Linked DNA regions of Homo sapiens: region 1 is linked to region 2. Evidence: fine-mapped expression QTL. Tissue or cell type: lung. Region 2 holds a variant in brackets; the other region holds the start of a gene. All regions are shown on one strand. Distances are from middle to middle. Region 1 holds the start of CARS2 (cysteinyl-tRNA synthetase 2, mitochondrial). Region 2 overlaps ING1 (inhibitor of growth family member 1).

Evidence for each region.
Region 1: it holds the start of CARS2, and the variant in region 2 is fine-mapped to the expression of CARS2 in lung (TOPMed, PIP 0.94).

What each region holds. Positions count from the first base shown.
Region 1 is chr13:110,694,215-110,710,982 of GRCh38, forward strand. CARS2 (cysteinyl-tRNA synthetase 2, mitochondrial) reads right to left here and starts at 11,902. Exons shown (of 15, transcript NM_024537.4): 1 at 11,656-11,902; 2 at 11,307-11,357; 3 at 7,224-7,341. The coding sequence starts at 11,879. RefSeq lists enhancers at 4,489-4,648, 12,320-12,699, 12,710-12,829 and a silencer at 11,710-12,269.
Region 2 is chr13:110,723,304-110,740,071 of GRCh38, forward strand. It overlaps ING1 (inhibitor of growth family member 1), which reads left to right. Exons shown (of 2, transcript NM_198219.3): 2 at 1-36. Among named protein-coding and RNA genes, the nearest start is that of ING1, 18 kb to the left of the region's middle. RefSeq lists an enhancer at 3,325-3,464. The variant C/A (reference allele first, on the strand shown) is at 6,581.

The DNA.
Region 1 (16,768 bases), 29 kb before region 2:
AAGGTTTCTCCACGGTGGTTAGGCTGGTCTCAAACTCCTGACCTCAGGTGATCCTCCCACCTCGGCCTCCCAAAGTGCTGGGATTACAGGCGTGAGCCACCGTGCCTGGCTTAATGATTTTTCTTAATATAAAATGTTACTGGCTGGCCGTGGTAGCTCACGCCTGTAATCCCAGCACTTGGGAGGCTGAGGCAGCTGGATCACCTGAGGTCAGGAGTTTGAGACCAGCCTGGCCAATATGGTGAAACCCCATCTCTACTAAAAATACAAAAATTAGCTGGGCGTAGTGGTGTACGCCTGTAGTCCCAGGTACTCGGGAGGCTGAGGCAGGAAAATCGCTTGAGCCTGGGAGGCGGAGGTTGCGCTGGGCTGAGATCCCACCATTGCACTCCAGCCTGGATGACAAAGTGAGACCCTGTCTCAAAACAAAAACAAAACAAAATGTTACTATGTGAATATATCCTACCTCTTTTAATTCTTACCCCAGATTTGTTTAAAACCTGTGCTTTCCATCTCTGACAACCTATAAAATGGTGCCAAAAATTAAAGTCAAGGGAGTGACTCAGGAAAGTGTATTATTATAATTTAAAATATTTTAAAAACAAGTCTTGGAGCAGATGGCACGAAAGATATTGTTATCATTTTAAAAGCTTGCATGAGAAGAAACCCAATGTCCAACGGTGGAAGAATATGGGTAAAGAAAACGCAGCACAGTCGGCTCTCTGTATCCTAGGGTTCTGCATCTGTGGGTTCAATCGATCTCATATAGAAAATATTAAGAAATAATGCCAGGCACAGTGACTCATGCCTGTAATCCCAGCACTTTGCGAGGCCAAGGCAGGAGGGTTGCTTGAGCCCAGGAATTAGAGACCAGCCTGAGCAACTTAGAAGGCCCTGTCTCTTCAAAAAATACAAAAATTAACTGGGCATGGTGACACATGCCTGTGGTCCCCGCTACTCTGGAGGCTGAAGTGGGAGGATCCCTGAGCCTGGGAGGGTGAGGCTGTAGTGAGCCGTGATTATGCCACTGCACCCCAGCCTGGGTAACAGAGTGAGACCCTATCTTAAAACTAAATAAATAATAAAAAATAATACAAATTTTTAAAAAATATAGTACTACTATTTATAGAGCATTTACATTGTATTAGTTATTAAAAGTAATCTAGATATGATTTAAAGTATATGGGAAGATGTGCATAGATTAAGTGCAAATATATTTTATATCAGGGACTCGAGCATCCAAGGATTTTGGTATGTGGGGAGGGGGTCCTGGAACCAAAACAAAAGCATATATATTCAGAAGATAGACAGCAAGGAGAGTGTACATGCAATGTGACATTATTCAGCCATAAAAAGGAAGGAACTTCCGGCACAGGCTGCAGGTGGATGAACCTTGAGGAATTATGCACCATTTAATGCTGTAAATGTACTTAATGCCACTGAATTGCACATTTAAAAATGTTTAAAATCGTAAATTTTATATTATAAAAAAGGTAAAGAAGAAAAATAAAAGTTTTAATTTTACCTTCAAAAAAGTTTACATTGGATAAAAAGAATTACCTTTTTTTTTTTTTAAATTATACTTTAAGTTCTGGGACACATGTACAGAAAGTGCAGGTTTGTTACACAGGTATACACGTGCCATGGTGGTTTGCTGCACCCATCAACCCGTCATCTACATTAGGTATTTCTCCTAATACTATCCCTCCCCTAGCCCCCCAACCCCTGACAGGCGCCGGGTGTGTGATGTTCCCCTCCCTGTGTCCATGTGCTCTCATTGTTCAACTCCCACTTATGAGTGAGAACCATGCGGTGTTCGGTTTTCTGTTCCTGTGTTAGTTTGCTGAAAATGATGGTTTCCAGCTTCACCCGTGTCCCTGCAGAAGACATGAACCCATCCTTTTCTATGGCTGCACAGTATTCCATGTGCCACATTTTCTTCATCCAGTCTATCACTGATGGGCATCTGGGTTGGTTCCAAGTCTTTGCTATTGTGGACAGTGCTGCAATAAACATACGTGTGTATGTGTCTTTATAGTAGAATGATTTATAATCCTTTGGGTATATACCCAGTAATGGGATTGCTGGGTTAAATGGTATTTCTGGTTCTAGATCCTTGAGGAATCGCAACACTGTCTTCCACAATGGTTGAACTAATTTACACTCCCACCAACAGTGTAAAAGCGTTCCTATTTCTCCACATCCTCGCCAGCATCTGTTGTTTCCTGACTTTTTAATGATCGCCATTCTAACTGGCATGAGATGTTATCTCACTGTGGTTTTGATTTGCATTTCTTAAAGAATTACCTTTTCACTAAATACTAAAAAACAGATGTTTTCATAACTATGGGTTTCAGATACATGTTTTATTACATTGAAGTCAGACATTATTTTGAGGAAAGAAACTATTCAATACCATCTTAGGATCTTGCTGTGTACCAAGTATGGAAATTCTCTGGTTCAAAAATTAACTACTCTCTACAGTTAGAATGTTTAACCAATTCTACCAAGTTTTTCATATTCTAATCATAACATTTTTAAAAAAGTTAACAACCAATCCCTCCTTGTGGCATCTGTGAAATTAACTCTTGCTTCTTCCTCCCTTTACCACGCTGGCCACCTCCTCCTTCCTGCAGTTCTCTGCTCCCTGGATTCGGGGCTCTTGTCCCGCTTCTCTGATGGCAACGTTCCTGCCCCACCTTCCCCATCGCCCCCATGACACCCTCCAAGTACACTGTGTCCTCACCTCTCCTCCCATCCCCTGCGGGGCCCTTTCTCTGTCCCATGGGGCTCCCTCCAGAACTCAGCCAGTGTCTCAGCCTCTACCAGCTCCCTGCCACCAGGACATGGGGACTGACACAATTCTTTCTGATCTTGAAGATTCATGAGAGGCACGAAGCTACCAAGTGCTTTCATTTCAGGCTCTGGCTGCCCCGACGGCAGGTGAAAGCCCCGAACCACTGACCTTCCTTCTTTACCAGTGGGGCATTTCCAAACACCACCTCTGCTGAGGGTTACCTGGTGACTAGACATTCACGCACAGCCTTAGACATCACGCACCTGCCTTCTAAATCCTGCCTCTTATAGGCTGGGGGTAAGGATGTGAAGAAATACATTTAAAGTGGGAGCCGATTTCCAGCACTGCCAGTCTCTCAATGATCTGACTCTCAGTTGCAAGATATCAAATAAACTGTTCCCCCTTTGACCTAGCAATTCCGCTTTGGAAATTAATTAACTTTTTATTTAGAGACAGAGTCTCACCCTGTGGCCCAGGCTGGAGTGCAGTGGCACGATCTCAGCTCACTGCAACCTCCACCTCCCGGGTTCAAGTACTTCTCGTGTCTCAGCCTCTCGAGTAGCTGGGATTACAGGTGCACACCTCCACACCCAGCTAATTTTTTGTGTTTTAGTAGAGACAGCGTTTTGCCATGTTGGCCAGACTGGTCTCTAACTCCTGGGCTTAAGTGATCCAGCCTTCCAAAGTATAGGATTACAGGCGTGAGCCACTGCACCCAGCCACAGGAAATATATTTATAAGTAAACAAAACAAAAGCATATATGTTCATAGCAGCACTCTTTTTAACAGCCAGAAGCAATACAAACAGCAATTGGGAAAAGGCTAGAACTGCTAAACAGCCCCATGCGGTGGGAGACTACCCAGTTATGAGAAAGACAAATCAATAGAAAATAGGAAGACAGAGACCTCAGTGAAAATGTTCCTCAAGGACCTCACACCATTCCTTTGACTCATGCCTAAGAGACAAGAGAAGAGCTCTGTTCACTCAACAAATGACAAAGTTCAGCCTCTTTTCAGATAAACGCCCCAGCCCAAAGGCGGCCTCTGACTTCCAATCCAAATCTTTAGTCACTAGTTCCACCCCATTTCACAAAAGGAAGATGCATGGGTGTGACGGGAGGTTAAAGAGGAAGGGAAGCCACAATGACAGACAAATGCTATAATTCAAATCTCACTGACTTAAAAAGTATGTATATGTATATTTTTTTTTCAAAAAAAGAAATCCAGGCCAGGCGTGGTGGCTCACACCTGTAATCCTAGCACTTTGGGAGGCCGAGGAGGGCGGATCACCTGAGATCAGGAGTTCGAGACCAGCCTGGCCAACGTGGTGAAACCCCGTCTCTACTAAAAATACAAAAATTAGCCAGGCATGGTGGTGGGTGTCTGTAATCCCAGCTACTCGGGAGGCTGAGGCAGGAGAATCGCCTGACCCCGGGATGTGGAGGTTGCAGTGAGCGGAGATAGCACCATTGCACTCCAGCCTGTGCAACAAGAGTGAAATTCTGTCTCAAAAAAAAAAAAATCCAGCAAGTTTTTTTTAAAAAGCACCAGAAACACTGCTATGGTTTGAATGTTTGTCCCCTCCAAAACTCATGTTGAAATTTATTTGCCCTTGTAACAGTATTAAGAGGTGAGAACTTGAAGAAGTGATTAGGCCGTGAGGGCCCCACCCTCTTGGATGGGCTTCATGCCTTCTTAAAAGGGCTTTCCGGCCAGGTGCAGTGGCTCACACCTGTAATCCTAGCACTTTGGGAGGCCGAGGCAGGAGGATTGCTTGAGCTCAGGAGTTTGAGACCAGCCTGGGCAACATAGTGAAACCGCATCTCTACTAAAAATAGAAAAAAGAAAAAAATTAGTCATGTGTGGTGGTGCACAGCTGAGTCCCAGCTACCAGGAGGGCTGAGGTGGGAGAACAGCTTGAGCCCAGGAGATCAAGGCTGCACTGAACTATGACCACACCACTGCACTCCAGCCTAGGCGACACAGTGTGACCCTGTCTCCAAAAAAAAAGAAAAAAAAACCCAAGGAGGGGTGGGGGCAGGGGGCTTTTGGCAGGGCTTCTTTCTCTCCCCTTGACCTCTTGCCCTCCACCATGGGATGATGCAGTAAGAGGGCCCTTGCCAGATGCTGGCACCTTGATCTTGGTTTCCAGCCTCCAGCATAGTGAGCAAATACGTTTCTATTCATTATAAATTACCCAACCTGTGGTGTTCTGTTACAGCAGCACAAAACAGACTAAGACAAACACCGTCTAATGCTCTTGGAGGGTCAAACTGCCAAACAGCAGCCCACCACTGGACAATCCACAGGTGGTCTCCACAAAAAGCAGAGAGAACAGGGGTGGAACAGGTGCTGACCATGGACGCCGGTGACAGGTGCATGGGTTCATATGCTCTTCTCTCTACTTCATGTATGTTAGAACATTTCCACTGTAACACATGCTGGTAAAAGCAGTGGTAACTGGCAAAGTATCACAAGACTACATCTCGTCTACATCAAAATTAGGTCAGCTTTACTTAAATTCCTTCATCAGATTCAGGAAAAGGAAATAGCCAGTCATCCTAACTAACACACAAATGAATAGACTGTCTTGTATGCTAAACCACAGTGAATTGTGAAAATGGGCAAAAATGTCCAGAGAGAATGGTGATTAGAGGAAGCACCCGCAATGGAGAAAGCCGACACAAGACAGCATGTGGGGCAAAGAGTGACAGCGTTTCATCAGAATGGCTTCTTTAGGAAAAGTCTTCCTCACCAGCAGTTAAAGTCAAAGGACCCACCAAAGCCCTTCCGGTAGAAGTGATGTGCGGGGCACTGGCCCCCAGCCAACAGGGAGAGCCCGAGGAGGCGCCTCCAATGTCCCACCTGCCTGTACAACCTCATCCACTGTGTCTTCCCAAAGCTTGCCAGGCACCACACTCCAGGTGTGGGCCAGACTCCAGTGGGGCCCTCAGCCTGCACGGGAAAGAGACTTCTGCTACCCGCCACAAGTGCGCAGGCCATTCCCACCTGGCAGGGGTACTTGCCCAGAGATAGCTGAAGTCAGAGCTGTGGGAGTGGCCCTGCCCCTGAAGGTCTGTGCAACCTCAAGATGTGATCACCTTAACCTCTTGACTCTTCTGCAAGATGGGGACACATCCAATGAACCTGAGTGGAGGGCCACCTTACAAAATCAAAGTCCTACAATCCTTGACAGTGTCAAGGACATGAGACAGGGAACTACTGAAGACTGAAGGAGACCGAGGAGACAACAGGACTCTGGAAGGGGTTCTAGAACAGAAAAGAAAGAGGCGCTCGGGGACAGGGACAACACCTGGGGTTGACGTCCATGTCACCCACACCAGCGCACTGCATCAATGTCCGGTTCCTGACTGGGAGGGCTGTGCGGGCCTCGAGAGCCAGTGACCTTGCTCTGAAGGCACGCGTGGCGTGTGCAGAGAGGGGAGGCGGCCTGGTGGGAAAAGTCTAGAACAGAGAGAAGATGATGGCCCAACGCAGCCAACAATGGCCACGAGGAAACCCAGGGTGGCTGCAGGAGATCTTTGTACTATTCTTGTCATTTTTCTGTAGATCTCAAATCGCTTCAAATAATTTTTTAATATGGAATAAAATGTGTTAAAAAAAGCACAATAAGGTCTGCTCTGCGCAGCACACAGGGTTGTTCTGAGACTGAAATACTAATAGATACAAAAAGTACTTTTTAAACTATCAAGACACAGACATGAAAGGCATCATTAGCACAAATATGAATACGTCCAATCAGTGGGTCTGGTTCCCTCAGTAAAGAGAAAGTCAAGTCATTTCCCTTGGAGGCCGAGGGGCCAGGGGAGGGAGTAAGATTGGAGCCAGGAGACGACCACAGAAGGAGGTAACGACACGAGGCCACAGAAAAGCCTTCAGCGATCACAATACGATAGATGTTAACTTCCTTTACTAGGGCACCAAAGAAACCCTGCTAACCCAGCACTGTTTCATGTCTCAGATTACACCCACTGGCCACACATGGACAATAAGATGTGAGAACTACTTGTAAAATGCAAACAAGAACCACTTTCTTTTTTCTTTTTTTTTTTGAGACAGAGTCTCCATGACCCAGGTTGGAGTGCAGTGGCACAATCTCCGCTCATTGCAACCTTCGCCCCCCCAGGGTCAAGCGATTCTCCTGCCTGAGCCTCCTGAGGAGCTGGGATTACAGGAGCCCGCCACCACACCTGACTAATTTTTGTATTTTTAGTACAGACAAGGTTTCACCATGTTTGTCAGGCTGGCCTCAAACTCCTGACCTCAAGTGATCCACCTGTCTTGGCCTCCCAAAGTGCTGGGATTACAGGCGTAAGCTACCACGCCCGGCCAAGAACCACTTTCAGGAAGGGCTCAGAACACTAATCAATGGCATTATCAATAGATGTAACTCTTCTCCACTTACCTCATTGGCTCTTTTGATGATTTTATCATCTACATCTGTAATACCCATCACCATGACTATGCTGCATCCAAAAACCTTGGTTAGGATCCTTCGAATGATATCAAATCTAACATATGAGCTGAAAGAAAAAAAGTGTCAGGATGTCTTTATTACACAAAGTCATCAGTTATCTTTGTAAAAAATCCATTACATTTTAACATGCTGCTCCATAACTTCTACTGTGTAGCACAATGGACAGGTCAGCGGAGCAGGTACAAGGAAACTCCCTCTCACTGATGGCACCAGGGCCTGCGCCACAAGGGTTCTCAGGAGAAACTGACAAAGGTATTGCATCAATTTCAGGACACAATATTAGCATTTTTAATTTTGGAGTTGTTGCTTAAGTGAGTTGAAGTCTATTTAATTGTATAAAAATTCACTCATAATACAATCTCTCAGTTAAGATCGTGTTTTCACCATTCTTGTTCATGTTCTAGAGTAATTCTAATTTTTCACTATGACAAAACAGAAGCAAATACCAAATCAAAACAAGTACGATCCCATTAAAGCCATATAAGATTACTCCTAAGAATGCACACACTAGTGTAGAATATTTAAAAATGCCAGCTTATTTATATACTACACTGGGGTAATTCAGACTTGTAAAACTAAAAGGGTTTAAAATCTACTTAGCATCTCAAGAATCTGTTTTCCCATAAAAGTTACCTTAAAACTCAAGGTTATCTAATGTCACACTCACCTCTGCTATCCATGTGGCCTAAATTTCAGTTCGTAAAATTGTTTTCTCTTAGGGTGGTGTGGGGGAATCCTAGCCATGTTATTGTATCACTTTAACCTCCCACACACCCCCTCCCTCTCCAAACACAGCTGAGACCAAATCTTGATTCCAGGGACAAAACTATCTCCAAAACTCAACAAGATAATTAACCTCTTACAGCTCAGTCGGCTTGCTTATAAATTTGGCAAAATCCCACCACCTAACAGGACTGCTGTCCAGCCTTACCGCCTGTGCAGCATGAATTCTAAAAACACAAGCTATTATTACCATTCTCATCACCATGCTCCTTCATTCACCTCAAGTTGGGAAAGAGTCTAAAAGATGTGAGATTTACAAGAAAAAAATTACAGGAACCTAAAGCAAATGAAAACAAGAGTCAAGTCCCTTGCTTGGCCCAGAGGAGCCCAGGCTGAGTCCCGGAACTGCCCTTGGAGACAGCAGAGGCTCCACAGCTTGGCAGAGCTGGCGGAATGCAGGGTCATGAGCAATTTGAGACCCTGAGACGCTGCAGGCAGGCTGTGACCACAGGGGCCACTCTATACACAAACACGCACACACACGCCTTGCAAGTGCCGGGCAGCCAAGTCTGAAGAACATGGCATCAGGAGACCTCAGCTTGCTTCTGTGACTCCACCATGAACCATGCTACCGTCAGCCCGGCTCTTTCTGCCCCATTTTCTCCATCCACTGGGTGAGTGTGCTCATCTGGGTGATCGCTGAAATGATTCATTTGCTAAGAGTCTTCCCTCAAAACGCTCCAGTGTGACTCCGTCTACCATGGCATGAAATCCAAACTCTCTGGGCCAGACCACGCAGCACCCTCCCCAGTCTGGCTGCAACTGACGCCCCATCCCTTCCCCTGCTCCTCCCCCCTAGCACCAAACTGATCTATTTGTTTTCCCCAAACAGGGTTTCCATCCCTCTGACCTCTTCTGGAAATGGTGGAGGCTATTTTTCAGGGTGTCTCTTTCCAGTGAACTGAGTGCTACCCATTGCTCAAATTCTACCTTTCTGCAGCAGGCACTGTGTGCATCCCTGTCCTGCTGGAGCTGAAATAATTACATCATGCTAACGACATCAGATGGTTGCATAAATAACCACTGAAGGAGTACAATGCTAGGAGAGCTGAGATGGGGAGAGGGAGGTGGGGCAGGCCAGCCCAGCAAAGGCCTGGAGGGGTTGGCCAGGCTGACAGGAAGGTGGTCAACAGGAGAGTCCCAAGCTCCCACCAGCCCCTGGGAAGGCCCTGTGTGGACACAGCTTATAACATGCATTCAGCTGCGCACTTAAGATGTGTATTCTTTTCTGTAGTCATAAAGGTAAATATTATACAAATTTAAACTGCAAGACTTGACTCTCCTAGTTGGAAATGAGAAGAGATTCTCTCCCCAACAACTTTTAGGATTTCTTCCTCAGTCCTCTTCAAATGCATGTCAATCTTTTAAATGGCTAAATAAACCTCTTGGCAGTTTTACAACTCAAGAAAATTTCAAAACCTGGGACCCACCTCTGAAATGTAATCAAGGAAAATAACGCCCCGTTTCCCAGTGTCCTGGGAGGAGATGGGCCTACCTTGTCATCTGACTCCACACTGTAACTCACCTGAAGCAATGGGTTATGCTATGGTCTGAATGTTTGTCTTCCCTCCAAATTCATGGTTGAAACCCTAACTCCCAAGGTGACGGTTTTAGGAGGTGGAGCCTCTGGGAGTGACAAAGTCATGGAGGCAGAGAGCTCATGACTGGGGTTAATGCCCTCATAGAAGAGACCTCAGAGAATTCCCTCTACCTTCTACCATGTGAGGACACAGCAGGCAGACCCTCAACAGACACCAAATTTGCTGGTGCCTTCATCTTGGACTTCCTAGCCCCAGAAAGAAAGAAATTTCTGTTGTTTATAAGTCATCCATTTTAGGATATTTTGTTACAGCAGACTCATAGACTGAGACAGGCTGTATCCCCAAAGCTCCATAGAAGGATGAGATTTCTTTCTGTCTTTGCAGTTATTTTAGCTCATCCCCTTCTGGTTTAAGGCTTATTCAGTAACAGAACTGTTTTCTTTCTCTTCTACCTTTGTGGAAAGGTTTTCCAGGGTGGGGGTTTTGTTTTTAATATTTCCCCAACATATTTTATAATTCAAGAAAGATGTCGAAATATGCTTTTGATAATTAAAAGTATGTTAGCCCAAAGTAAAGGGGAAAAATGTATATTTAAAGTATACAGAGTATGCCGGGCATGGTGGTTCATGCCTGTAATCCCAACACTTTGGGAGGCCAAGGCAGGTGGATCATTTGAGGTCAGGAGTTCGAGACCAGCCTGGCTGACATGGTGAAACTCCGTCTCTACTAAAAATACAAAAATTAGCCGGGCGTGGTGGTACATGCCTGTAATCCCAGCTACTCCGGAGGCTGAGGCAGGAGAATTGCTGCCAGGAGGCGGCAACTGGACCTGGGAGGCAGAGGTTGCAGTGAGCCGAGATTGCACCACTGCACTCCAGCCTGGGCGACAGAGCGACTCCGTCTCAAGAAAAAAAAAAAGTATACAGAGTAAATGTAACTTTTTACTTTTAGTCTAGGACTGAACAATACTAAGTTTTAAAAAATCTATAATATGTCATTTTTGTACATTATATTTTGGAAATGTACAAAATATTAGGAAAAGTGGTAATTTTGGCAAATGTAGGAGGCAGTACATCTTACAGTTAAAGAGGTCAAGAGAGCAACCACTTCGCAGTCAGAGAAACCAAGCCTCACCCCAGTTCCAATACCTCTTCAATGTGTCATCTTAGGAAAGTTACTCAATCACTATTGAGCCCCGTGACATCTCACATGTGAGGTACAGTGTTAAGCAGCATTTTATGGGCATTATTTACTAAAATTGTTATAAGATCCAAGTTATCATTCCCATCTCAAAGATGAAGAAACCAGGACTCAAAGCAATAAAGTGACCTGCTCAGTGCTGTGAAGCTAAGAAGTGGTGGGGCCCAGGAATGACTGATCAGCAGGACCCCGGGACCCCGCAAAGGCCTCTTGATGTCACTAAACCCAGCAAAAAACATCTAGTTCCAAAACGGGTCATTTTTCAGTGCTCCATTGTCTCCCTGAGTTTCCTCACCTGTAAAACGGGTGTAAGTGCTCAGAATCCCTATAAGAACCAAATGAGGTTGTAACATTTCCCACAATGCCTGGAATGTAGGAATTATTCTGCATCCCTAAGTTGCCACTTAAGAGATAAAAGAAATCAGCAAAAGGCTTTCAAAAATAAATGGTCCTTTGAAGTATGAAAATTCAAATCCAGGAAACTCACCAAGCATGGCCAAGGTGCGCATGATCATATACAGTTGGTCCACAGCTATACCTGGAAACAAAGTTAAAATCCATCGTGTGGAACATATTTGCAAGAAAGGACATTCGATTCTGAGTTATAATGATCATATAATTTTTAAAGTAATCACTTCTGGGGGATGAATAGCCGGGGTTTTCATACTTGCTCAATTCACACCCAAACCTGCAAAAGCACCGCGCACCCCCAGCTTCTAGAACGGCGCCCTCCATGCAGCTTCCTAAACGCCCTCCCCGAGCCCAGATCCCGTTCAGCCGTGGGAAGTCTCCGCCACGATCGGCCCCCGCCCGTGCCCCAGTCCCGCGCGGCCCACCAGGAGGCGGCTTCGGCGTGCGCCACGATTAGGGGTTCCTTCCTCCCGGTGAGGCTGTTGTACACCTGCACACCCGTCTCCCGGCCCGTGGGCTGCAGCCAGGCCCGCCCGCGCCCCCCGCTCGCCGCCCGGCCCGCAGGCCAGTGCCACCCAGCCCGCCCAAGGCCCAGCGCGGCCTGGAGCAGCGGGGGGCCCAGGCCTGGGCCGCGCGTAGTCCTCAACATGTCAGCGGCCAGCGCCTACGACTGGGCGGAGACGGGAGCCACGCCGGGTACGCTGCCGGTCGCTCAAGAGCAGCACGGCCCCGCCCCGCCCCGCCCACGCCCTTGGGGCCACGCCCACTCCCGGAAGCAGTCCTCAGGTAGCGCCTCCCTTTGGCCTGGCTCGAGTCGCCCGCGGCAAGGGTGGAGAACCAGGGCCCGAAGAGGTTGGGGCGGGGAAGGCCCGGGGTGGAGGGAGGAGGGCGGTGCCGCGCCGGGAGGCCGTGGGAAGAGGCGGTACCGTGCCGATCTCCTCTCCTTATTAGCCCAGGTCCTGCGAGGCGTCCGTGTGCGCGCGGTACCAGCCTGGAGCTGTGTCCGCCGCGCGGGAGGAGCGTTTACAGTGCAAGCTTCTGTTGCCGGGCCCTGGCCTGTTAGCGAAGCACGTGTGCATCCCAGCACAGCCCACGTCAGCACGCTAATACACAGTGTCCACCCCAGAACACACGTCAGCACCCCAATACAGTGTGCACCCCAATACAGTGTGCACCCCAAACACACATCTGCGCCCCAATACAGTGTGCACTGCAGCACACCGTTAGCATCCCAACACAGTGCACCCCGATACACAATGTGCAACCCAACACACAGTCTGCACCCCAAGAAGTGTGCACCCCAATACACAGTATGCACCCCAGCACACACATCAGCATCCCAATACAGTGTGCACCCCAATACAGTGTGCACCCCAGCACACACATCTGCACCCCAATAGTGTGCACTGCAGCACACCATCAGCATCCCAACACAGTGCACCCCGATACACAGTGTGCAACCCAGCATACAGTCTGCACCCCAATACACAGTATGCACCCTAGCACACACCACATCAGCATCCCAATACAGTGTGCACTCCAATACAGTGTGCACCCCAGCACACACCATGTCTGCACCCCAGTACAGTGTACACCCCAATACAGTGTGCACCCCTAATACACTGTGCACTCTAACACACACCATGTCTGCACCCCAGTACAGTGTGCACCCCAACACAGCACATGTGCATCCCAGCAAACACTGTCTGCATTCCAATGCAATGTGCACCTCAATAGAGTGTGCGCCCCCACACATCTACACCCCAATACAGTGTGCACCCCAATACACAGTGTGCAACCCAACACACACCATGTCTGCACTCCAATACACAGCATGCCTCCCCCACCATGATCCCGTATCTTGAGAACAAAAACATTCTGAAAGTTACTCACAATAGCTTGACAAACGTGCCTCTATTGGGCCAGGCGCAGTGGCTCACACCTGTAATCCCAGCACTTTGGGAGGCTGAGGCGGATGGATCACCTGAGGTCAGGAGTTCGAGACCAGCCTGACCAATATGGTGAAACCCCGTCTCTACTAAAAATACACAAATTAGCCGGGCGTGGTGGCGTGCATCTGTAGTCCCAGCTACTGGGGAGGCTGAGACAAGAGAATCGCTTGAACCCAGGAGGCAGAGCTCACAGTGAGCTGAGGTCACACCACTGCACTGCAGCCTGGGCAACAGAGGGAGACTCCGCCTGAAAAAAAAAAAAAGTGCCTCTATTGGTGTCTTGCAATACGATGTCTCAAAAAAAAGAAAAAGTCCCCTTTGCTTTTCCAGTTCTCAAAACAGGAGACGTTCCTCTGGTTTTTTGTTGTTGTTTTTAGTTTGCTTTGGTGTTTTATTAAAAAGCAAAGGTTTAAGTAGAGACAAACAAGTGTGTACCTAGAGTAGTTTCTCAATATCCTGGAGTCCAACTCTGCAATTCTGTTTCAAGCTAACTGTAGTCTAATGTAATCTATTGTCTAATTTAATAAGGTTAAAATGTTAGAATTAGGAGACCCTATAGCCTACATCAATGCTAACCACTCATGTTACCTAACTACTCTAAATTCTCCTGAATATTATCACTTCTTGCCTGCCTTATGTTATTTTGTAACTTTCCAGTGCTGTGTGTATATTTATCTCCCTGAGTATCTTAAATTGTACATTATTTTGAACTTCTCACTGTGCCCTGCACTAAATTCAGAAAAGGACTTGGGTTTTGTTTGTTTTGTTTTGCTGTGGCTGGAAAAAAAAAATTTAGAAGAAATAAAAGGGCTTGTTGAATGTTGATGAATTAATCCCTTACGAAAGGGATTAATTGTGCAGGTGGGAAGAAATCTGGGTAGTAAAATACCTGATAAAGCTGATTCAGATATTAGATGTGCCAGTAAATAAAGCAAATTAACAAAAAGCTCAGTTGCAATCTGTGAGAACACACGAATTCAAGGAAATAACTGGAGCAGAGATTCTGAAAGCAGCTTAGTAACACTGAAGATCAAATCTGCACATGAATCTGGACATGCGGTATATTTGAATTGTTCATAGAACATCACAACTTTTAAATTAACAATAGTATCTTCTGTCTTCAGAAAATTCATGTAATGTTTTTAGCCCCTCACTGGCAGTGATTCTATTATGTTTTCTTTTTTTTTTTTGAGGCAGTCTTGCTCTGTCACCCAGGCTGGAGTGCAGTGGCCTGATCTGGGTTCACTGCAGCCTCTGCCTCCTGGTTCAAGCAATCCTCCTGCTTCAGCCTCCACAGTAGCTGAGATTACAAGTGCACACCACCGTGCCCAGCTAATTTTTGCATTTTTATTTTTATTTTTATGTATTTATTTTTGAGACAGAGTCTCACTCTATCACCCAGGCTGGAGTGCAGTGGCACGATCTCGGCTCACTGCAACCTCCACCTCCCAGATTCAAGTGATTCTTCTGCCTCAGCCTCCCGAGTAGCTGGGATTACAGGTGCGTGCCACCACGCTCAGCTAATTTTTGTATTTTTAGTAGAGATGGGGTTTCATCATGTTGGCCAGGCTGGTCTGGGACTCTGGAACTCCTGACCTCAAGTGATCCAGCCACCTCAGCCTCCCAAAGCGGTGGGAATACCGGCCTAAGCCACCACACCTGGCCAATTCTCTTTTCTCTTTTTTCTTTTTTTTTTTTTTGAGATGGAGTTTCACTCTTGTTGCCCAGGCTGGAGTGCAATGGCGTGATCTCCTGGGTTCAAGCGATTCTCCTGCCTCTTTCTCACGTCTCCCGGGTTCAAGCAATTCTCCTGCTTGTCTCCTGAGTAGCTGGGATTACAGGCATGTGCCACCATGCCCAGCTAATTTTGTATTTTTAGTACAGATGGGGTTTCTCCATGTTAGTCAGGCTGGTCTTGAACTCCCGACCCCAGGTGATCCGCCCACCTCGGTCTCTGAAAGTGCTGGGATTACAGGCATGAGCCACCGTGCCCGGCAGCTAATTCTGTTTTCTTAAGGCTTTTGCGGATCATCAAAACAAGGAGAAACATAGCTCATTACCTAATGATGGTTAGAAATGTGATCTTTTTGCATATTGAATATCTGCAGGTTGAATATTAAGGTAAAGTAAAATAGACTGCTAATGCTCTTCATTACTATACCTCCCAGCCTACATCTTTCTCCTGTGCTGGGTGCTTCCTGCCCTCGAACATCAGACTCCAAGTTCTTCAGTTTTGGGACTCAGACTGGCTCTCCTTGCTCCTCAGCTTGCGGACAGTCTATTGTGGGACCTTGTGATTATGTAAGTTAGTACTTAATAAACATATATATGTATATACATTATATATATCTATATCTCCATCCTATTAGTTCTGTCCCTCTAGAGAACCCTGACTAATACACCATATATACATAAAAAGAGGATCCATTTAATTGAAGTCACCTCCCTCTCCAATCTAGGTCAGAACGAGGAAGTGTGTTAAAGTTAATGATTCCAAAATATCACTAATGCCATTTCTCAGTCCTTAATGACAACAATAACAAAATCAAGTTCTCAGTATTACATTTTCTTTCAAGGCAAAATCTTGTAAATCAGAAGTAGAGTTGATTACGGTAGCATATGGTTTAGGGGTTTTCAAGTTTAAGATGAATGAGTTTGCATTTATTTTTTAAGCACTTTGAAACTTAAACAATTCTATGCTTGGCCAGGCGCGGTGGTTCACGCCTGTAATCCCAGCACTTTGGGAGGCCAAGACAGGCGGATCACCTGAGGTCAGGAGTTCGAGACCAGCCTGGGCCAACATGACAAAACTCCGTCTCTACTAAAAATACAAAAATTAGTTGGGCATGGCGTCCGGCACCCGTAATCCCAGCTACTCAGGAGGCTGAGGCAGGAGAATCGCTTGAACCCGGGAGGCGGAGGTTGCAGTGAGCTGAGATCACGCCACTGCACTCCAGTCTGGGTGACAAGAGCAAGACTCCGTCTCAAAAAAAGAAAAAGAATTATATGTTCATCTCTTATATCTGACTCTCATAGGTTTGAGCATTTTCAGTTAGACTGGAAATATAATTTTAGAAAAAAGTTTAATTTTAAATGTTTCTTTTTAATCCATTTGAAATTTCTGTTCTACGGAAAAGTTTTAACATCCATTTTTGCAACACGCCACAGGAAACAAAACTGAAAGAGACAAGATTCTTCAACGTATCTTCAAAATTAAGCACCTTTCTTCAATGACATTTAAAATTCGTTATCAAAGGTAATTATGTTTTATTGCTTGATCTTCTAAGTTTGTTCCAAAAAAGATAAAATCTTTTTTGACTTTTTATCCCAAGGGGTGGGCTAAAAGTTTTATGGAATGTAAAGCTCCAAAAAACTTTTCACTACTGTATCCCCAGCGCACGGACCAGTAGTTGGCACATGGTAGACACTCGTCAATATTCCTTGTTGAATGCTTAAGATGCCTTTTTGGTTTATGTGTATGTGAAGAGAGTACATAACTAGAGGAACAAAATCATTACTCAGATTGTACTGTGTTGTGATTTTTTTTTTTAAAAAGAAAACCTAGGTTAAACTCCATCTTATCTTT
Region 2 (16,768 bases):
TTGCCAATGCTGAATAAAGCATTTATCAAAGTAAAAGCCATTTCCTCTTATTATATATTATTTTAGAAAGAGTACACATTTAGTTGTGATATCCTTTTGTAGTTCACATTTATGTAGTGTTCCAGGTAATAAGTTACCTGGAACTTACCTGAACACTTCAATATTTCATTAAAGTATTAAATCTTTTTCTTAGGCAAAATGATTAAGAGCTTCATCTGTGCACTTCTAAAGACATGATGTGCTCTCGAGGACATCTAGCTTTTTTCCTTCTATCTAATGTAATTTATGGCTCTAGAATCCTTGGCATATATGGAGAGAGGTTTTATTGATACTGTCTGCCTCCCTCTCCATTTTAGCGTGTAGAATGTGCCTCTTTCATCGCAGAGTCCAGGCAGTTCTCAGCACCTTGGGGGCTAGATTTCCGGGGTTTTTTTAATCTGGAAAAATTGCTAGTCCGTGACTGCATTTCTTGAGGCACTCGTGTTCTCTGCACAGGCTCTCATTGTGAACTCGTGGAGGGCTTAGGAAGACACCGCTAATGGGAAGGAGGTGGGAGAGCAAATGTGTGTTGTGTTACTAAGTCAAAATTGCCTCCTGAGGCTTTTTATGAGGGGCTTTGTTTCAGAGTATTTATTTTAACTATTCCGTCTTTGTTTTTTAAGCAGCTCATCAGTGAGAATCCAACTATTACATTTTTTTCTAACAAACCAAACATTAGTGAGCTGTGCCCCCTGTGCCACCAAAAGAATGAGAGGAATTCTATAACTGGAATGAAGAAAATCATTAGGCCAGTTCTCTTTCCTTACCTCAAATACTCTGTATTACTTGACTGTTCATAAAGATGGGGTTGGTATTTTTCCAATTAAAAACCCCAATCTGAAAAGAAGCTACTACAAACTGAGTAACAGGTTAAATCTTTTTTTTTTTTTTTTTTGTTTCCCCTGAGACGGTGTCTTGCTCTGTCACCCAGGCTGGGGTGTAGTGGCCTGATCTTAACTCACTGCAACCTCTGCCTCCTGGGTTCAGCGATTCTCCTGCCTCAGCCTCCCGAGTTGCTGGGATTAGAGGCATGCACCACTACGCCCAGCTAATTTTTTTGTATTTTTGGTAGAGATAGAGTCGCACCATGTTGGCCAGACGGTCACAAACTCCCGATCTCGTGATCCGCCCGCCTCAGCCTCCTAAAGTGCTGGGATTACAGGTGTGAGCCGCCACGCCCAGCCCAGGTTAAATCTTGACTGGAGCCAGTAAACTCCATTAAAGTAAAATTTTTCTTTTTCTTTTTTCTTTTCTTTTTTTTTTTTTTTTGAGACAGAGTCTTGCTCTTGTTGCCCAGGCTGGAGTGCAATGGCACGATCTCGGCTCACTGCAACCTTCGCCTCCTGGGTTCAAGCTATTCACCTGCTGCAGCCTCCCGAGTAGCTGGGATTACAGGCGTGTGCCACCAAACCCGGCTAATTTTTGTATTTTTAGTAGAGACAGGGTTTTACCATGTTGGCCAGGCTGGTCTTGAACTCCTGACCTCTGGTGATCCACCTGCCTCAGCTTCCCAAAGTGCTGGGACTACAGGTGTGAGCCACCGTGCCTGGCTAAAGTAGAAATTTTCTTTTTTTCTTTTTTTTTTTTTGAAGTGGTTAGAAAAATTTATTTTGTGCTTAGGATTTTTTTCTTTTTCTTTTTTCCTTTTTTTTTTTTGAGACGGATTTTTGCTCTTGTTGCCCAGGCTGGAGTGTAATGGCGCAATCTTGGCTCACTGCAGCCTCCGTCTCCTGGGTTCAAGAGATTTTCCTGCCTCAGCCTCCCAAGTAGCTGGGATTACAGGCAGGCGCCACCACGCCACACCCAGCTAATTTTGTATTTTTAGTAGAGACGGGGTTTCTCCATGTTGGTGAGGCTGGTCTCGAACTCCTGACCTCAGGTGATCCACCCGCCTCAGCCTCCCAAAGTGCTGGGATTACAGGCATGAGCTACAGCACCTAGCCCCTTAGGATATTTTTCTAAGGCATCACAAGTTACACATCCAAACTCTTCAATGGTATAATATTTTATATTAAAGTAGAATTTTCTACGAAACAAGAAAATGCTTGTTTCAGCAGGCAACTTTAAATAAAGGTACTCAGTGTCGTGGTGTATGTATATCAATATAGCCACCATTTATTGCCTCCTATATGCTAGACATTGCTAGCACTGCATACTTCATATTTTATGACAACCCTGCCAAAAAATGGCTGCTTTTCCTGATGAAGGTGCTGAGACTCCAGCCAGGGACCTGACTTGCACAAGGCCAACGCCCTGCATCTGGCTCCAAAACCAGCATCCTTGACCACCGCCTGGCACCCGGAGGCCTCCTCATGGTCAGGACCTGGCGTTGCTGCTGGTCTTCCCTGAACGCCTAACATGCCAGGAGTGTGCTGTCCTCCCAGCTCTGTGGGGGTCTTACAACTGAGAAAGCCATAGAAGGTGAAAGAAACGCTCATGGTCTCACGGGAGGAGAGAGCGAAAAAGTCTTAATTGCTGGGCTTCTTTGCCTGAATGAAGGGATCTGCAGGAGCCACGGGTATTTGCACTACCAAGTTCTCATGCTTCTGATTTTCCTCCAGGTAAACCAGGATGCTTACTTCAAGTTTCTTGTTTTGCCCTACAGTGAATTTTAGGATTGTAATTTACCTGCAAGGTTTTTGTTTGTTTGTTTTGTTTTGTTTTTTCGAGATGGAGTTTCGCCCAAGCTGGAGTGCAATGGCGCAATCTCTGCTCACTGCAACCTTCGCCTCCCGGGTTCAAGCAATTCTCCTGCGTTAGCCACCCGAGTAGCTGGGATTACAGGCACGCGCCACCACACCTGGCTAATTTTGTATTTTTAGTAGAGACGGGGTTTCTCCATGTTGGTGAGGCTGGTCTTGAACTCCTGACCTCAGGTGATCCGCCCGCCTCGGCCTCCCAAAGTACTGGGATTACAGGCATGAGCCACCGTGCCCAGCCTACCTGCAAGGTTTTAAGCAATTCACTAGGAGCCATGCACGGTGCTAGAATCAGCATGAGAGTCAAAGTCAGATTTGAATCAGGACTAGTTTATCACAGGTTAACCTCAAGGAAGTCACTCTTCTGTACCCAATGTTCTCAGAAGCAAAATAAGGACAGTGATAATGCCCATCCCAGGAGTGGAGGCCCAGACTTGTTAATGTCTGAAAATACTTCAGAAATGCTAGAGCACTGTACAGATAACAATTTGAGTAATATTTTTGGTCAAATTATTCTAGTTTAACACATGTATTCTTAAAAAATGGACTTGTGATTCCTTACAGCTAAAGAGAATCAAGTCCACCCTTAGCATGTTAGCGGTCACTGCCAGGTTCCTGCTGCACGAGGAGGAAGTCCTCCATGGCTGCTTTTCTATAAACAATTCCATTTCTCGTTGTAGAACACAGAAGTAAATACATCGAATTTTTATTTTTAGTAGCAATCAGAGCCTACTAAACTTCCTTTTGACTCACCTCTTGATTGAATTCAGAGTAGGCAGAAAATCTCATTCAATCTCTTCACTGTGTGGGTGAGGAAACCGAGGCCCAAGGGTGATGAAGCCACTTCCTCAAAGGCACTCCGTGAGTTGGTGGTGGGGCTGCCGGCAGGATGAAGTGCTGTTACTCCAGGCCAGAGCCACTCCCCCGCTTCATCAGCCATGCTGTTTCATGGGTGCACCTGTTCTCATTTATGTGGACGTTAGGAACCGTGGGTCTCTCGTGTTAAGCCATAGGCCTTTAATAAAGACGTGTAGAGTAAAGCCTGAATCCAAGAATTGACATTTAAACATGAAACATTTTCTTTTCTAACTTGGAAACCAGTTCTAAAAACACACCTAAAAGGGAATTTCAGTTTGATTTGTGTGAAGGGAATATTTTTGGATAAATCTGTATGCCATTGGAAATGCAATATTTCTAAATGATTAATATTTGAGACATTAATGTAATGAGACATGTAATGTCATGTAATGTAACGAGACATGTAATGACATGTAATGTCATTACATATTTGAGACATGTAATATTTGAGACATTAATGTAATATTTTTATTACATTTAATAAATTTTATTTTTATTATAAAATTTTTATTATAAAATTTTATAAAAACAAATGTAATGATCAATCACAGAGTTTAACAATGTATCCATTTACAAAGATGCCTGGAAACAGTTTGCTGTCTCCCAAAGTGTTTATTTAACATAAGAAATTGTTAGATAAATACTTATTTTCTCTATTATTTGAGCATCTTTTGGTTGCAAGTAACAATAATTGACTATGTCTCAAGCAAAGACAGGAAAGATAAGAGAAGTGTCAGAAAATTCAGGAATCGGAAGAGCAATGAGGACACCGCAGCAAGGATTTTTCTCTGCAGCACAGATGTGTTCAGACACAGTGCGGACCAGGTGGAGACCCATCCACGAGGCTCACCGTGGCCAAGGGGTAGATGGTGTGGTGGACACTGAGCTGCTGGAGTCTGTTGTGGACAGTCAGGTGCTATGTTAGAGCAAATCTTTCCATTTTAAAAACACTTCCCCGGCCAGGTGTGGTGGCTCAAGCCTGTAATCCCAGCATTTAGGGAGGCTGAGCCGGGTGGATCACAAGGTCAGAAGGTTGAGACCATCCTGGCCGACATGGTGAAACCCCGTTTCTACTAAAAATACAAAAAATTAGCCAGGCGTGGTGGCACTTGCCTGTAGTCCCAGCTACTCGGGAGGCTGAGGCAGGAGAATCACTTGAACCCGGGAGTCAGAGGTTGCAGTGAGTCGAGATCATGCCACTGCACTCCAACCTGGGCGACAGAGCGAGTCTCCGTCTCAAAAACAAAACCAAAACCAAAAACAAACACTTGCCCTGATAGGTGCTGTGTTTGAATAGACGCTTGTGCCACCCTGACAGCTACTGGCTCTGGCTTAATTCTTTTCCCTTTAATTGGGATGTGTTCAGGGAATGGAAATTAATTTTTGTATTTTAAAGTAAGTAAAAGTTAGATGGAAGAGGGGAAATTATAGTTTTCCATGGCCAATATACACAATTTTCAAAATATTTATGACTCTTTGCACCATCAATCTGTTCCATAAACATGAGAAATTAGAAGTCAACTAACAATGAAATACTTTTATGACACAAAGATCTTCAATAATATGAGGTAGTTGAAAGTCAAGATATACAAGGATGACCTTCCTTGGCATCTTGGAAGGCTGGTAAGAACCATTTCACTTTGCAAATTTTGAAAACTACACTCGACCAAGAAGTTTAATTCTTTTTTTTTTCTTTCTTTTTTTTTTTTTTTGAGATGGAGTCTTGCTCTGTCTCCCAGGCTGGAGTGCAATGGCACGATCTCAGCTCACTGCAACCTCCGCCTCCTGGGTTCAAACGATTCTCATGTCTTAGCCTCCTGAGTAGCTGGGTTACAGGCACCCGCCACGTGTAATTACAGCCACCCGCCTGGCTAATTTTTGTATTTTTAGTAGAGACGGCGTTTTGCCATGTTGGTCAAGTTGGCCTCGAACTCCTGACCTCAGGTGATCCACCCACCTCAGCCTCCCAAAGTGCTGGGATTACAGGTGTGAGCCACTGCGCCCAGTCAAGACGTTAATTCTTTAGAAAGTGCCAAGTCGGATGTGGAGAATAAAAAGATGAGCAGCTAAGAACCCAGTCTACAGAAGTAACAGCTAGATTGCACTGCAGGGGAGGAATGGGAATAGAATGTGTGAGGACAATTAGGAAACAGCTTGTGAGGCTTACTGCATGTGGCTCCATACTTCAGGAATGATCTAGAAAGGTCAAAGGAAAGCAGCACGGGAGGACTGTGATAAGCTCTCACAGGACACTGGTGTGAGGCAGATCTTACATGAGGTTACAACTCCTGCCACTGAGGATGCAGTGCAACCTAAATTTTGAAAAATATAAGACATAAATAGACCATAGAAGAACAAATTTAATAATACCAGGAATACTGTTTCTTGAGGAACCAAAATACATGGACAGATTTACTAATTTTATTTCCTCTTATATTTCTATAATGTTATTTTGTAGAATGACTCTTATGACAGTTTTATTTATATTCTTAATATCCAGCATAGGGGAGAAGCTAATGAATGACATTTCTGGCTTTACTGTGAAATTATGTCACTGCAGTGTGTTCATGGGATAAAATATTGTTCTATTACCAAAGGCGTTGTGTTCCTCTCTTCAATGATGGGGCGACTTGAAATCTTTTTATAGGGTGCCAGGCCAACATTCCTCTAGTGCAGGGAAAGCAGAGGGTCAAACCTAGAAACAAAGATCTGGAAACTAATGGCTATCAACCAGACAGCAGGAAGTCAGTTGGTACTATCAATCTTTTTTTTCTTTTTTGGAGACAGGGTCTCGCTCTGTCGCCCAAGCTATGGAACAGTGGCAAGATTTTGGCTCACTGCAGCTTCCACTTCCCAGGCTCAGATGATCCTCTCACCTCAGCTTCCCTGGTAGCTGGGACCACAGGCGTGCGCCACCCTGCCAAGCTAATTAGTTTTTTGTATTTTCTGGAGGGACAGTGTTTTACCATGTTGCCCAGGCTGGT[C/A]TGCTCAATCTTATAGAAGCCATGAAGAGCATCGTTTCAACATGGTGGACTAGGCTAGTCCCTAAACACATACAAATTTTGTATGAAATATGGGGGAAGGGAAAGGTTTTAAATACATACCCAAGAGGAAACACAAGAGAATTCTCCGTGTGTCAACACAAAAGAAATCAGAGCAAAAATGGCAAGCAGTTGCTGAAGAGGTAGGCATGTGACCAAGGTCTGTCCATTAAGGTGCCCCACCCTGCTGGCCACAGTGACCAGGGTATGAATGGGCAGGTACCCCACATCCATCACTACCTATCTTTCCTGGGACTTTTCTTCTGGAGCCACCAGCAAAAATACCTTTTGTCTTTTCATTGTTGCTGCTAAACCATGAGGATGTATGCCTGGACACCTGGTGGTATCTTACCCAGCACACAGAGAGTCAGCCTGGAAAATGGAGAGAAATACAGTGTCCTGATGGCATTGTTGAAACCCCTGAAGCCACATGAACCCTGGAACTGTCAGTTATGGAGGTCAATAAATCCTTTTGTTCTTAAGCTAGTTCAAGCTGGGTTTGCATACTAACCAATTCACCCACCACCTCTATTTCCCAATCCTCCCAACTTCCCCAAGTCAACAGTCATCAGCGGTTGGTGGGCATCTATCTCTCCAGCTCTTTTTCTTTTTTCTTTCTTTCTTTCTTTTTTTTTTTTTTTTTTTTTTTTTTTTTGAGGCAGAGTCTCACTCTGTTGCCCAGGCTGGATCTCGGCTCGCTGCAACCTCCACCTCCCAGGTTCAAGCACTTCTACTCCCTCAGCCTCCTTAGTAGCTGGGATTATGGGTGTGCACCACCACGCCTGTCTAATTTTTGTATTTTTAGTAGAAACGGGGTTTCACCATATTGGCCAGTCTGGTCTCGAACTCCTGACCTCAGGCGATCTGCCCGCCTTGGCCTCCCAAAATGCTGGGATTGCAGGCTTGAGCCACCATGACCAGCCCACAGCTCTTTTTCTATGAGATGATACACACACTTTTAGGGTGGTTTTGAAATGTGCACAAACCTCACACTCCTCCCATCCGAGTGGAGCCTGGTTTCCCTCCCTTAACTGCAGAGGAGCCTGTATGCCTGGGTTAACGTGGAGAATGCATGGGACGTGACACCATGAGACTTCCAAGGCAGCGCAACAATCACAGTTTCTGACTGATCCCTTCCTGTCTGTGGATGCTCACACTTGGGAGTCTGCCTCCTGGAAGGGCTGCACACAGGTGTTCCAGCCATTTCTTCAGCTGAGGTCCCAACTGGTAGCTAGTGCCAACCATCAGATACATGGGCAAGATCGCTTGAAGGCGCTACCAGCCCCAGCTTCCAGCTGACACCCAGTGGAGCAGAAACAAACTGTCCCTTCCCAGCCCTGCCCAAATGGCAGATTCATGAGCAAATTAAATGTCACTGTGTTAAGCCATTACACTGTGGGGTGAATTGTTATATTGCAGTAGATAACCAGAACAATACCTATGTAAAGATACAGTTTTGCTTTACTTTTTCTTTTACAGAAATGCGATCATACCCTATGTATTGATTTGCAATAAGCAATTTTTTTCCCCTGTGTAATACTTTGCCCTGTTGGTCATTCCATATCAATACATAAAAATTAATTGACATGTTATTAACTATCACAAACAATTATGTCCTATGGATATGCTATAATTGAAACATTCCTTTAATGATCAATGATTAGAGTGTTTCAAATTTTTCTTTATGGCAAACCATTCCGAGATAAATATCTGTGTATTGTTTTCATCCTGCATATGAATATTTCTCTATGATTGATACACAGAAATAAAATTTTAGCAAAAAAGGTTTTCACACCATCTGTAGAGGCTAAGGCAACTCCATTCTTACATGCTAATCCACCATGCTGACATCTGATTAAGCCCAGTTCCAGGAAGGCCTCTAAGATTTCTATGTTATCTACTTTAAGATATATCCCACCAGCATCTGTGAGTACTTACTTCTCCTTACCTTTGCTGTCATTGGATATTAACCAAATAGAATTTTTCCTGTCTTGAGAAAAAACATTTATACATAGTTATGTAATACATTATATTTATAATTAAAATATTACATATATAGTACATACATATATAATATATCCATATTGTATATTTTATTATTATTATTATTTGAGACAGAGTCTCGCTCTGTCACCCAGGCTGGAGTGCAGTGGCACAACCTTGGCTCACTGCAACCTCCACCTCCCAGGTTCAAGCAATTCCCTTGCCTCAGCCTCCCAAGTAGCTGGGACTATGGTTGCCTGCCACCATGCCCTGCTAAATTTAGTATTTTTTTTTTTTAGTAGAAACAGGGTTTCGCCATGTTGGCCAGGCTGGTCTCAAACTCCTGACCTCAGGTGATCCACCCGCCTCAGCCTCCCAAAGTGCTGGATTGCAGGCGTGAGCCACCACACCTGGCTCATATTGTATATTTTAGGTATATAAACATATGTATTAAGAATATATAATTTGCGCTTCCCTTGTTTCTGTTGCCTTTGTACAACTTTTCAGATGGTATTGGCCATTTGTATTTATTCTAAAATGATTAATTTTTCTATTTATTACAGACAAAAATTTTCTCCAAGTCTGTTATCTTATATTTGTTTATGGCATCTTTGTCATAACAAAGCTTTAAATTTTTGAGATCATCATGTCTGAGCTCTCTTCTTTACAGAATTTATATTATATTTTGCTTAAGAAAGTTGTTCCCACCCCCAAAATTATAAAATATTCTCTTACAGTCTTTACATGTTTTTCAAATATCTCTTTTATCCATCTGGAATTTATTTTGGTTTTTAGGGTGGGGAGTCACTGAAATTCTTTGACAAAATGGAAGAATGTGAGGGATGCCATGTGGTATAGGGAAAGAGTGCTGGCCCTGAAGCCAGAGGACCTGGTTTCAGTCTCTGGCACGTACCAGCTGTGTGATCTGGGTGGAATTTCTTCATTTCCTTGACCCTTCGTTCCTCATTTATAAAATGAGTAATGATGCCTACCCCTCAGAGTGTTAATTCATACGACGTTCAAATGAGATAATGTATTAGTCCATTTTCACACTGCTATAAAGAACTGCCTGAGACTGGGTAATTCATGAAGAAAAGACATTTAGTTGACTCACAGTTCGGCATGGCCGGGGAGGCCTCAGGAAACTTACAATCATGGCGGAAGGTGAAGGGGAAGCAAGGCACGTCTTAATGGTGGAAGAAGAGAGAGAGAGCAAAGGGTAAGTGCCGCACTTTTAAACCATCAGAGCTTGTCAGAACGAACTCACTGTAACAAGAACAGCATGGGGAAAATCCACCCCCATGACTCACCCAGGTCCCTCCCTTGACATGTGGGGATTACAATTCGAGATGAGATTTGGGTGGGGACACAGAGCCAAACCATATCAGATAATATATGTAAAAGTGGCCATAACTTAATGATGTGTATTAACCCCTCTAAGTATTTCCTCAAATAGATGGTCATTGTCTCAAGCCAGTATTGAATACTCCATTACCTTCTCATTCATGAAATGTCAGCTCTATGATATATTAAATTTTCATAGACACGTGGGTGTCTCAGTTAGTTTCCACTGATTTATTCATTTATGTCAGTGAAAAATCTTCACTGTTTTCATTTCACTAGCTTTATAGTACTTTTTAATATTTAATAAGGCAAGCGCTCTGTTTGCTTCCTGTATAGTTCATTTTTGCATTGCTATAAAGAACTGCACGAGACTGGGTAATTTGTGAAAAGAGGTTTAATTGGCCTATGGTTCTGCAGGCTGTACAGGAAGCATGGCTGGGGAGGCCTCGGGAAACTTACAATCATGGTGAAAGGCAAAGGGGAAGCAGGTATGTCCTTCATGGCCGGAGAAGGAGAAAGAGAGTGAAGGGGGAGGTGCTACACACTTTTAAACAACCAGATCTTGTGAGAACTCACTATCACAAGAACAGCAAGGGGGGAAATCCACCCCCATGACATAGTCACTTCCCACCAGGCCCCTCCTCCAACAAGGGAGATTACAATTTGACCTGCGATTTGGGCAGGGACACAGATCCTAACCATATCACTTCCGTTAATGATTATAGATTAACTTGGAGAACACCTATACGTTTGGAACATGAATCTTCTCATGCAGAATATGAAGTATTTCCATTTATTCACGCTATCTATGATAGCCTTCAGTTATATTTTACAGTTTTCTTCACATTTCTTTCTGGTGTGTTGTGTTTTAGTTGCTACCACACATGGATCTTTTTTCCATGACTTTGCTCCATTGGTTCCTATTTACATGTAATAACAAGTTAATGTTTGTAGGTTGATCTCAGATCTGGCCACCTTGCTGATATTTCTCATTTGTTCTAGAAGTTTGTCAGTTGACTCTCGTAGACTTTCTAGGTAGAGGACTGTCAGTACAACATTGCCAGTGCCATGCCCGTGACTGATAGTGGGCATCTCTGCTTCCTTTCCTTTCGTCCTTTAATTCCCTCTTACTGAATGAGCTGGGACTTCAATGAAAGGTTAAGTACAGTTGGCAATAGCAGGCATCAGAGTCTTGTTCTGATTCAAATGGAAATGCTTTGAATATGTCACCATTATTCTGATGTGCCAGGTATTTCCAAAAAATATTGTTTTGTCAGGTACAGGCAAGTTTCTTTTATGATTTTTGGTATTTTTAGAGTATTGCCAGAAGTTAATGCTGAATTCTGTCAAATACTTTTTTGGGGTTGAGGCTGAGGATAGCTATGTGAGCTACGTGTGGATCTTCTCCATTTATTTATTTATTTTAGGGACACGGTCTCATTGTGTCACCCAGGCTGGAGTGCAGTGCTACGATCAAAGCTCACGGCAGCCTTGAACTCCTGGACTTAAGCAATCCTCCTGCCTCAGCCTCCTGAGCAGTTGGGATTATAGATGTGAGACACCATACTGGCCTTTTTTTTTTCAATTCAGTAAATTTTGATCCCATTCCAGCATATGTAGCTTAAAAAACAATAATAATAATAAATGAATTTCGAAAAATCTTGGCATTATTGGGATGGACTCTTCCTGGCTGTGATGGATTATTCTTTTAGTCACCACTGTATTTGATTTGATAATTTTTTGAGACAGAGTCTTGCTCTGTCACCCAGACTGGAGTGTAGTGACACAATCTTGACTCACTGCAACCTCCACCTGCCGGGTTCAAGTGATTCTCCTGCCTCAGCCTCCCGAGTAACTGGGATTATAGTCACCCGCCACCACACCCGGCTAATTTTTGTATTTTTAGTAGAGACAAGGTTTCGCCATGTTGGCCAGGCTGGTCTCGAGCTCCTGACCTCAAGTGATCCGGCTCCCTGGGCCTCCCAAAGTGCTGGTATGACAGGCCTGATTTGATAATATTCTATTAGTAAGTTTGTGTCTCTGAGATGGGGCTTTTAAAAAAGCTATTCTTGTAGTGTGTGTGTGTGTGTGTGTGTGTGTGTGTGTGTGTGTGTGTGTGTGTGGAGTATATTAACCTTATGGAATGAATTTAGGAGGTTTACCTTTTTTTTTTTTTTTTAATGCCCTGGAAGCATTTATTTATCCTTCGAGGGCAAATTCCTCTTCAAGGAATTATTTGTCCCTTGAATATTTGTTAGAAATAATAGGCAAACAATAATCTTTGCAGTAAGTCTTTGACTACCTTTTCAATTTCTTCTCTTCAGGGTCTCTATCTCTTTTTTTTGTTGTTGTTGTTGAGACAGAGTCTTGCTCTGTCGCCCAGGCTGGCGTGCAGTGGCACGATCTCGGCTCACTGCAACCTCCACCACCTGGGTTCAAACGATTCTCCTGCCTCAGCCTCCCCTGTAGGTGGGATTACAGGGGTATGCCACTGCGCCTGGCTAATGTTTGTATTTTTAGTAGAGACACAGTTTCACCATGTTGACCAGGCTGGTCTTGAACTCCTGGCCTCAGATGATCTGCCCGCCTCAGCCTCCCAAAGTGCTGGGATTACAGGCATGAGCCACTGTGCCTGGCCTCTATCTCTTCTTGACTCAGTGTTATCACTTTCTATTTTCTTTATCCCATATTATATTTTCCATGAAAATGTTCTATTTCATCTAGGTCTTAAAATGCATTGGCATACTGTTGAACATAGCACTTACTTTTTCATCACCTTGATGACTCTGGTTGTATCACCTTTCTCATTTCTAATATTATCGATTGTATCTTCTCTCTTATTTCTTAAATTGGCTTGTCACATACTAGTCCATTTAATTGATCTTTACAATAAACCAGTATTTGGTTTTATTGATTAAATCTATTCTTTTTTTTATTTTTTTTATTTGAGATGGAATCTTGCTCTGTTGCCCAGGCTGGAGTGTGATGGTGATATCTTGGCTCACTGCAGCCTCTTCCTTCCAGGCTTAAGCAATTCTCCTGCCTCAGCCTCCCAAGCAGCTGAGATTACAGGCACACACCACCACCCCTGGCTAATTTTTGTGTTTTTAGTAGAGATGGGGTTTCACCATGTTGGCCAGGCTGGTCTCGAACTCCTGACCTGAGGTAATCCACCTGCCTTGGCCTCCACAGTGCTGGGATTACAGGCATGAGCCACTATGCCCGGCCTGTTATTATTTTTCTTTTATTGATTTATTATATTATCAGCCTGATTTTTACATTTCTTTCAGTTTTTTTTCTCATAGCTTCTTGAGTTAAAAGCCTCTTGTATTTTCAGTCTTTCTGGTTTTCCAATACATGAATTTAACACCGTAAAATTTCATCCAAATACTCCTTTGTTTGCATCCTGCATATTTATAATGTCATTCATTTCTAATAGACTGTATTTTTAATTTTATATTTTCTGTGAGTAGTTACTTAGAAGCACATTTTAAATTTTTCATAGGTATAATACTCTCCTTCAGCTATCCTATTAATTTTATCACTGATTTTATGATGCTGTGGCCAGGCATTCTCTGGTCCTCATGATTTCTGCTTTTTTTTTTTTTTTTTTTTTGAGATGGAGTCTCACTCTGTCACCAGGCTGGAGTGCAGTGGCACAATCTCAGCTCACTGCAACCTCTGCCTCCCGGGTTCAAGTGATTCTTCTACCTCAGCCTCCAGTGTAGCTGGGACTACAGGCGCGTGCCACCACGCCCAGCTAATTTTTGTATTTTTAGTAGAGATGGGGTTTCACCATGTTGGCCAGGATGGTCTCGAGCTCTTGACCATGATCTGCCCACCTCAGCGTCCCACAGTGCTGGGATTACAGGCATAAGTCACCACACCTGGCCTGATTTCTGCTTTTTAGAAATCTTTTTGTCCCTCTGATATTCTTGCATGTGGTCAATCTCCTATTATTTAGACATTGTGTAGCCACAATTATTTAATCTGTCAATTTCTAAGAAAAGTGTATTCATGTAATTTATATGGTTGTGGATTTGTTAGTTTCTTTTATTTCTACAAGTTTTCACTTTTGTGTGTGTCCTATGTATATACATGTACATATATATTACTCTATGTGTATATATGTGCTATATGCATATACATATATGTATATGTACATATATACCCACATTTTATACATGTATGTACGTATATGCGTCTGTGTATATTTATGGTATATGGTGTGTATATATGTGTATATATGTATATGCTATATGTATATGGTGGATATACTTTGGCTCTGTGTCCCCACCCAAATCTCTTCTCCAATTGTAATCCCCATGTGTTTGGGAAGGGGCCTGGTGGGAGGTGATTGAATCATGGGGGCAGACTTCCCCCTTACTCTTCTCATGATAGTGAGTTCTCACAAGATCAGGTTGTTTGAAAATGTGGGGTACTTCCCCCATTGCTCACTCTCTCTCCTGCTCCACCATGTAATACATGCTTGGTTCCCCTTCTCCTTCTGCTATGATTGTAAGTTTCCTGAGGCCTCCTCAGCTGTGCTGACCTGTGAGTCAATTAAACCTCTTTTCTTCATAACTTACCCAGCCTCAGGTAGTTCTTTATAATCCTATGAAAATGGACTAATATGGATTATGGTATCTGGAGTGGGATACTGCTATAAAGAAACTTGAAAATGTGGAGGCTACTTTGGAACTGGGTAATGGGCAGTTTGAATAGTTTGGAGGGCTCAGAAGAAGACAGAAAGATGTGGGAAAGTTTGGAACTTCCCAGAGACTCGTTGAATGGTTTTGACCAAAATGCTGACAATGATATGGATAATGAAGTCCAGGTTGAGGTGGTCTCAGATGGAGACGAGGAACTTATTGGGAACTGGAGTACAGCTCACTCTTGCTATGCTTTAGTAGAGACTGGTGGCATTGTGCCTCTGCCTTAGAGATCTATAGAACTTTGAACTTCAGAGAGATGATTTAGGGTATCTGGCAGAAGAAATTCCTAAGCAGCAAAGCATTCAAGAAATAACCTGGCTGCTCCTGACAGCAGTCGTATGTGTTCACAAAGAGATGGTCTGAAATTGGAACTTTTATTTAAAAGGAAAGCAAAGCATAAAACATTTGGAAAATTTGCAGCCTGTACAATGGTAGAAAAGAAAAATCCATTTTTTGGGAAGAAATTCAAGCCAGCTGCAGAAATTTACATAAGTAAAGAGAAGCCAAATGTTAATAGCCAAGACAATGGGGAAAATGTCTGCAGGGGATTTCAGAGAGCTTCATGGCAGCCCCTCCCATCACAGGTCCAGAGGCCCAGAAGGAAAAAATGATTTCATGGGCTCAGACCAGGATCCTATTGCTCTGTGCAGCCTTGGGGCATGGCACCCTGTGTCCCAGCCACTCCAGCTCCATCTGTGGCTAAAAGGGGCCGAGGTACAGCTCAGGCTGTGGCTTCAGAGGGTGTAAGTCCCAAGCCTTGGTGGTTTCTATGTGATGCTGGGCCTGCGGGTGAGAGGAAGACAAGAATTGAGGCTTGGGAATCTCTGTGCAGATTTCAGAGGATGTATGGAAATGTCTGGATGTCCAGGCAGAAGTCTGCTGCAGGGACAGAGCCTCATGGAGAACTTTGAAGGGAAACGTGGGGCTGGAACCCTCACAAAAAGTCCCCACTGGGGCACTGGCTAGTGGAGCTGTGAGAAGAAGGACACTGTCCTCCAGACCCCAGAATGGTAGATCCACCAACAGTTTGCATCATGTGCCTGGAAAAGTCACAGGCACTCCACACCAGCCTGTGAAGGCTGCCAAGGGGACTGTATCCTGCAGAGCCACAGGGGAGGATCTGCCTAAGGTCTTGGGAGCCCATCCCTTGCATCAGCGGTCCCTGAATCTGAGACATGGAGTCAAAGGAGATTATTTTGGAGCTTTGAGATTTAATGACTACCCTGCTGGATTTCAGACTTGTATGGGGCCTATAGCCCCTTTGTTTTGGCCAATTTCTCCATTTTGGAATAGGAGCATTTACCCAATATCTGTACCCCCATTCTATCTTGGAAGTACTAACTTGCTTTTGATTTCACAGGCTCATAGACAGAAGGGACTTGCCTTGTCTCAGATGAGACTTTGGACTTGAACTTTTAAGTTAATGTTGGAATGAATTAAGACTTTTTAGGAGACTGTTGGGGAAGCATAATTGGTTTTGAAATGTGACAAGGACAGGAGATTTGGGAGGGGCAAGGGGCAGAATGATATGGTTTGGCTCTGTGTCACCACCCAAATCTCATCTTGAATTTTAATCTCCATGTGTCAGGGGAGGGGTCTGGTGGGAGGAGACTGGATCATGGGGGTAGATTTCCTCCTTGCTGTTCTCATGATAGTGACTGAGTTCTCACAAGATTTGGTTGTTTGAAAGTGTGTGGCACTTTCCCCTTTGTTCTCTCCCTCTCTCTTGCTCCACCATGGTAAGATGTGCCTGCCTCCTCTTTGCCTTCTGCCATGATTGTAAGTTTCCTGAGGCCTCCTAGCCATGCTTTCTGTTAAGCCTGTGGAACTGTGAGTCAATTAAACCTCTTTTCTTCATAAATTACGCAGTCTCAGGTAGTTCTCTATAGCAGTGTGAAAATGGACTAACACAATGGTGTATATATGTATATCATGTACATGCACACATATATTTATAGAATGTAAAATGTGTGTGTGTGTGTGTGTGTGCGCGCGCACAAGGTGCTTAACTGTTCATTATTGTTTTATGTTTTTGGGAGATTGTAACTTTTTCTCCATAGGCAAATATCCATAAAAATTATTTAGACTT